Homo sapiens: one gene and its partner. The protein of the gene in region 2 interacts with the protein of the main gene of each other region in a biochemical or structural test. Each region holds a gene or a part of one and is shown on either strand. Other genes may lie near its edges.

Region 1 (3,500 bases), on a different chromosome or scaffold from region 2:
GAAAAGGCTAGGGATATTCATTGTACTATGCTTTCAACTATTCTTCGGTTTTGAAATTTTTCAGAACAAAAATTAGTGGAGAAAGGTTCATCCTCAGTCCAGTAAGTTCCAGGAGACAGAGCCAGACCTACCTTATTCACCACTGTTTCTCCACTGCTAGCTCAATGTGTGGTCCTCATCCCACTGGCCCAGGAAACCACTGCTAATATTTCTGTGGGAACCTCCCTCCAAGCTTTTCCCTGGGCCTGAGGAAAGTTATACTGGGCATGCTGCTTTGCAACCAGGTCTCTTCAGGTAGAAACACTTTGTAACCACCTATCAGGAGAGTACATACAGTCTGCCATCCCCAACCATAGGTTGACTCCACATGCATGGATTCAACCAACAGTGGATAGAAAATATTAGAAAAACAAGAAATTGCATCTGTACTGAACATGCACAGACTTTTTTTTATTGTCATGATTCCCTAAAGAATATAGTAAAGCAGGCCGGGCACGGTGGCTCACGCCTGTAATCCCACCACTTTGGGGGGCCGAGGTGGGCGGATCACCTGAGGTCAGGAGCTCGAGACCAGCCTGGCCAACATGGCAAAACCCGGTCTCTACTAAAATTACAAAAAAAAAAAAAAAAAATTAGCCGGGTGCGGTGGCACGTGCCTGTAATCCCAGCTACTCAGGAGGCTGAAGTAGGAGAATTGCTTCAACCTGAAAGACGGAGGTTGCGGTGAGCCGAGATCGTGCCACTGCACTCCAGCCTGGGCGACAGAGCAAGATTCTGTCTCAAAAACAAAAAACAAATAACAAAAAACCCAGCAGACTGGTCAGAAAAGACTGTACAGCCACAGGGGTTTCCATGTAGGGAAATTTCTCTAGGCAAGGAGGAAAAGCCTGAAGAAGACAAGAACTGCTGAGAACAGGGCAGCAGGGAACATCCTGGACCCACCTGGGCCGCACAGGCTGGAAAGAGAGGCCGTGGCCGGGCATCCGAGCCTGGGCCCCTCACAGAGGAGGAACAAAGTGACAGGCCAGGAGAGGAGGGGAAGATGCAGGAGTGCTGGCATCTGGGGACCAGCCAGCAAGTCCTTGGAGCCCTCCCTCACCAGAAAAGGGGAAGCAGGAAGGACAGCGGCAATGGCCAGAGTGAGGAGAATGCAGCGTCCTGCAGCTCCATGGAGTGAGCGCCTCCTTCACGGAGCAGCCCTGGCCGCCCTGCAACTGAGGCCGCGGCACCGAGGGTCCCGCCAATGCAGCAAGGGGCGAGAGACACCACACCTAAGACTCAGGAGCAAGGTCCTGTCCCCGCTCCCAACCCCGGGGCTCCTGGAATCACCGAGGCAGAACTGAAAAGTGAGTGCGGGCCCCTTTCCCACATGTTCCACTGCAAAGGTCAACACACGCCAGGCGCATTTCAGTGAGGCTTCAAGTCTTCCCTGCAAATCTCATCAGCCTTTTCTGATGGCATTCAATGCACAGCGGTCACTTTCAGCTACAACCCCTTCCTACTGCAGTCGAATTAATTCCAAAAGGGAAAAAACAGGTTAAAGAATGGGACTTTAACGATGAATTTATTGCAAAAAATAAGCCCATAGCCAGAAGAATCCTGACTGGCATCCTGCTGAGACACACAGCCTCTCCTCAGCCCTCTCCAGCACGGGGAGAGGGCACTGTCACCAGCTCCGCAAACACGCAGGAGACGGGGACCTCCAGAACTAACGTCCTTGGTCTCCAGACCTACCTTCAAACCTCATCTTTAAATATTTCGAATCCCTGCGTGCTACAAGCTGACTTGAAACACAGATTGGGCCGGTCCCAGCACGGTGGCTGGTAGAGAGGGCATCTGATCTTGTCTGTGGAATGACGGAAGTCACTGGACTGTCCAGGAACTACATGCCCACCTTCATCAGATGGAAACCACACACTTGTTTATTCTGCAGGGGGCCGTGTGCTCAACAGTGAGCTGCTAATGTCAGGCTTGTCCATCTTTTTCATACACAGGCTCTACAGTACTGTCAGTTCCCAATTCTGTGGGTCCCTGTATAATCCAACTCTTTAAACAGAAACCAGGCTGGGTGCGGCGGCTCATGCCTGTAATCCCAGCACTTTGGGAGGCCGAGGCGGGAGGATCCCTTGAGACCAGAAGTTTGAGTAGCCTGGGCAACATAGTGAGACCTCATCTCAATAAATAAATTAAATAAATAAATAATGTAGGTGGTGCGCACCTGTAATCCCAGCTACTTGGGAGCCTGAGGCACGAGAATCACTTGAACCCATGAGGCGGAGGTTGCAGTGAGCCAAAATCATGCCACTGTACTCCAGCCTGCGTGACAGAACGAGACTGTCTCGAAAAAATAAATAAATAAACAAACAGAAACCAGAATCAGGTGCTCTTATAAGGGATGTGTAGCCCAGAAACTCAATCTTAACACATTCTAAATGACCTGGAATTTCTTGGAGCAAAAATTCCAGTTTAAATATCAGGAAAATTGTCTAGACTAAGAGAATGGAAACGGACTTTGTGCAACCAACATCAGGTACAGAAAAGAGACCCCAACAATCATCATGAACCCAAACAGGCCTTTCTCCTCACTAAGAGAAGAGAACACACACAACCCATGCCTTGTTACTCTTTGAGAAGATGTGCCCTGCCTGTGATCTAGCAGCTAGAGACGGAACATACAACCTGTTCTCAATATTCAAATAATTTTTTAAAGGACATGGTATCACACTGAGCAAGTGAATAATGCAATTCTGCTGTAGAAGAATGCACGGCTGAAAAGACCTGAGCAACTCATGTCCAAAACTTGCAGTTTCCACAGCAGCACTTCCTCCCAGCACACTGCCCTTTGAACCTGCTTTCTAAACAACTGTGCTGGGCAGCCCAGTGGCCACATGTCATCGCACAGCAGGTGTGGAGCAGCATAGAGCACCCTGGCCCTCGCACCTGCTTGGGGGACTGTTTCTGCACCCAGGGCTTCTCTGCAGCCACAACCTGCCCCACACAGAACTGCAGCACCACGTGGCATCCTGTCCATTTCCTCAGAAGGGGAAAGTGCCACGCCAGTGCCCACTCTCTTCCAAACACATCCTCTCAGAAGGGACTGGCCACGCTTGCCCCCTCATTTCTGCAGCGCTTCCCAGTTCATCACCTGCTTGCCAGACTCCGTCTCCCACCGGTGTCAATCAGCTGCCCTGGAGCATCTAAACCCTGGGTCAGGCGGCTCAGGGGATGAGTGCATAGACTGAAAAAGGAACACTCCCTGTTTCTCCCCAAAACTGTGCTGAAGGCAGTCTAGAGGGCCAAGACCTGTCAAGAAGAGCTGCCCAAGGCCTCTTTTCAGGCCCCACATCTCTGCAGGCTGCTGCTGGATCCTTCTCATAAGAACACATCTCAGAAAAGCAGAACAAACCACTTCCCTCTTACCACTGGGAGCTCACCTTGCCAGCTCTAGACTCAGCTTGGACTGGCTGTCAGGGCAACGTTGCGTACAGGAATACATCACA
Region 2 (3,500 bases):
GAGGCGCAGGGAAGAGGGCGGTTTGGTTTGGAAAAGTGCAGCCCGAGAGGGAGCAGCAGGCTTTGGAGCAAGGTAAAGTTAAAATATCAGAGCTCTGGGAGACGCTGGCTTTTCGTTTTCCGAGGTTGCCGCGACGCCGCTGGACCTCAGGGGGCGCCCCCGAGCCACTGGTGGGGCTCCTGCCACCTCCACACTGGTCGGCCTCGGCCACCTCCACGCCTCAGGGATGGGGCGCGCGTGCCCGGGTTCCCAGGCTCTGGGGCTGCAGACGCGCCTTGGCGCGAGGCGGCGGCCTCGGCCTGGCGATGCTGCTCCTGGCTTTCTCGAAACCCGCTGGGGGCTGGAGTTAGCCTTGGGACCCCTACTTCTTGCCTGCTATGACCTCGAAAGCGCTTATCTGTTTGACATGAGGGATAAAAATGCTTCTGTTTTGGAGTAGGGTCGTCCTTGTGAGGTCTTAGCCAAAATCCCTTTTTATTTAGTATTTTTGTGTTTCCTCTCAGAATCATAACTCAGCATAACTCTTCAGTTGCATTTGAGTTCTCAGCTCCTGTTCAGGATATGGGTTAGCTGTAGTTTGGGCAGGGTTTTGGAAACACAGCCCTGGCATGAGCTTTTTCCCAGTGGATTGGAAACAGTGGATTTTAGTCTTTGAACAGCAGTGTGGCAGGTTTGGGATCCATTCAGGGTTAATAATGCTTCAAGTGATGCTTTCCAAGTGCAAAGCTAAGAGTGTTACCAAACATGATATTAGGCATATTACATTGCTATATACATCTTTATAAAGCACTGTAGAAACGTTTACAAAAATAGCAAAATATAATGGATCCCCCACCCAACTTCAACACTCACAACTCAATCTTCTCTCATCTCTTCCTCCCCAACACCTTATTATTTTAAAGCAAATCCTACACATAGTTCATTCAAACTCTGATACATATCTCCAATCACTGGGAATTTAATTGCCTCTGACACAGTATAAAATATGTTACTTCAGAGTGTTAACCTTTTATCTAGTTTACATTCTCAAGCTCAGCAGATTTTTTTTTTAATTGATTTTTGTCTTTCGGCCCTCAGAGTGAAACTCTGGTTTTGATATGTTTTGTATTGTAATTACATTATATCTAGGATGCTGCCATTGGAAACAGTTCAGATGGATAAGCTCAGCTGTGTACCTTGGATGTGTCAGAATTGGAGGCTCCATGATTAATGTCGGGTGAATCATGAATCTCCCTCTAAGCTGTCTCTTATTTTATTTGCATGTGCGGGCTTTAGTTCTGATGGGCATCCGTTATGGCCTTAGGAAAAGGCAAAAGTAATATTTGGAAATCAGCAATCTTTCTCTTTACAGGGTGTGAGATTGTACAGGTTTTTTTTCCCTCTCCCTCATGTATCATGTTTGAAAATGAAGAATCTTTACCCAGTCTCTAAACTGGGTTCCTTTGACACAGTTATGGAATAAAATCTTTGATGTTTCCTTCTAAACAGTGTTCACATTTGAGGGTTGATGGACTTAAAACACTAATAAAGATAGGCATAAACAGGGCCTTTTGGAAATAGGGGAAGTTGCTGTTGTTGCTGAAAGAAGAAAGGTCATAGGAAGGGTTGGCTGATGTGGGAAAAGTGACTATTCCATAGTGAAGCTTTGAGTATCTCCCATTAATTATGGACCTGTTTTCACTGAATAAAAGATTATGTTGTTGTTTACATGAAGCGATCCAGCGAATGCTGATGATTTAATGCAGCAAAACAAACAGCCCTTTCAGATTTGCCTTTCTATTCTAAACAGCTCCCAAGTTAACAGAGTAGAATCAGTTATACACCTGTGTGCTGATTGAAAGTAACTTCCTTGGCATTCACGTGAGATCACTTAAAATGCCCTAGAGTAGTTACTCAGGAGCCTCTCCTACTCCCTTGTCTCCCTGCCTTTTCCTGGAGACTTCTTTTCTTTTTTTGAGATGGAGTCTCACTCTGTCACCCAGGCTGGAGTGCAGTAGTGAGATCCTAGCTCATTGCAACCTCTACTTCCCAGGTTCAAGCGATTCTCCTGCCTCAGCCTCCTGAGTAGCTGAGTCTACAGGCACGTGCCACTATGCCTAGCTAATTTTTGTAATTTTGTGGAGACGGAGTGCCGCCATGTTGGCCAGGGTGGTCTTGAACTCCTGACCTCAGGTGCTCTGCCCACCTCGGCCTCCCAGAGTGCTGGGATTACATTGCTACTGGGCTGTTGCTTTAACACTTTGCTTTTACAGTGACACGTTGTTTGTTCTTTTTAAATCTTGATTTCCATTCAGCATGTGGGACAATGAAATGCCATTTCTAGGCAGGTTGAAGATTGCAATATGCGTACATTCTGAATTAAGAGATTTAAACAATTGTAGTTAATACTGTCATCCTGGGTTACATTTCATGTGGTCACATTCCATAACCCGGAGCTTATGGGAAAAATTTAGGGCATCTGAAGTTCCCTCTAAAGCACTTGGTGCCCAGAAATTAGCCCTTGGTTTGCTTTGGTTCAGAGTTGACCTCTGTTAGATGTTGGGTGGTGGTCACTGAAACTGTTTTCGGCTGTATCCTGTTTAGAGAATAAAAGGGCTGTTTTATTAATATTATAGAAGCCAAGGAGTACACTGCTCCCCACCTTTAATTTTCCACCTGAGCTTGATCTAGGTTAAGCAGCCACTGACGAGGTAGAGGGAGTGGCTCAGGAGGGACTCAGGAGGGGCTGAGAAGAGCCTGCTCTGTGAGGGCTTCTTGTGGGATTTGGCAATAGTCACTGAATTTGTCCCAGAATGAGGTTGCCTGTGCAAATGATTAAAAGATAAAACTGGGCACTGTGGCTCACTCCTATAATCACAGTGCTTTGGGAGGCGGGAGGGTCACTTGAGCCCAGAAGTTCGAGACCAGCCAGGGCAACATAGGGAGACCCTGCCTCTACAGATAATAAAAGAAAAATTAGCTGGGTGCACTCTTTTGTCCCCACTACTTGGGAGGCCAAGATGGGAGGATTGCTTGAGCCCACGAGGTTGAGGCCGCAGTGTACTGTGATCATGCCACTGCACTCCAGCTTGAGTGACACAGTGAGACCCTGTCTCAAAAAAAAAAAAAAAAAATTAAAAGATCAAATGTAGGCTGGGCATGGTGGCTCATGCCTGTCATCTCAGCACTTTGGGAGACCCAGGTGGGCAGATTGCTTGAGCCCAGGAGTTCAAGACCAGCCATGTGCAACATGGTGAGACCTCATCTCTACAAAAAATACAAAAATTAGCTGTACTTGGTGGTATGCGCCTGTAGTTCCAGCTACTCCAGAGGTGGAGGACAGGACTTTGGGGCTGCAATGAGCTGTGATGGTGCCACTGCTCTCCAGCCTGGGCGACATAGTGAGACCCTGCCTCAAAAAAAAAAAAAAAAAAAAGTTCATTTGCCAGTCTGAGAAATGGGAGCAACCATCTTACTTGGAAACAAACTATATCCAGGACTAGGGCAACATTCTGTGCACT

Evidence for each region.
Region 1: of the proteins of PTPRG (region 2) and PDPK1, one has a biochemical effect on the other in vitro, tested with the Homo sapiens proteins (one large-scale study listed by IntAct).

What each region holds. Positions count from the first base shown.
Region 1 is NC_000016.10:2,541,021-2,544,520, reverse strand, and holds part of PDPK1 (3-phosphoinositide-dependent protein kinase 1), read right to left. Parts: intron 1-3,500. UniProt on the Homo sapiens protein: Serine/threonine kinase which acts as a master kinase, phosphorylating and activating a subgroup of the AGC family of protein kinases.
Region 2 is NC_000003.12:61,564,571-61,568,070, forward strand, and holds part of PTPRG (receptor-type tyrosine-protein phosphatase gamma isoform 1 precursor), read left to right. Parts: intron 1-3,500.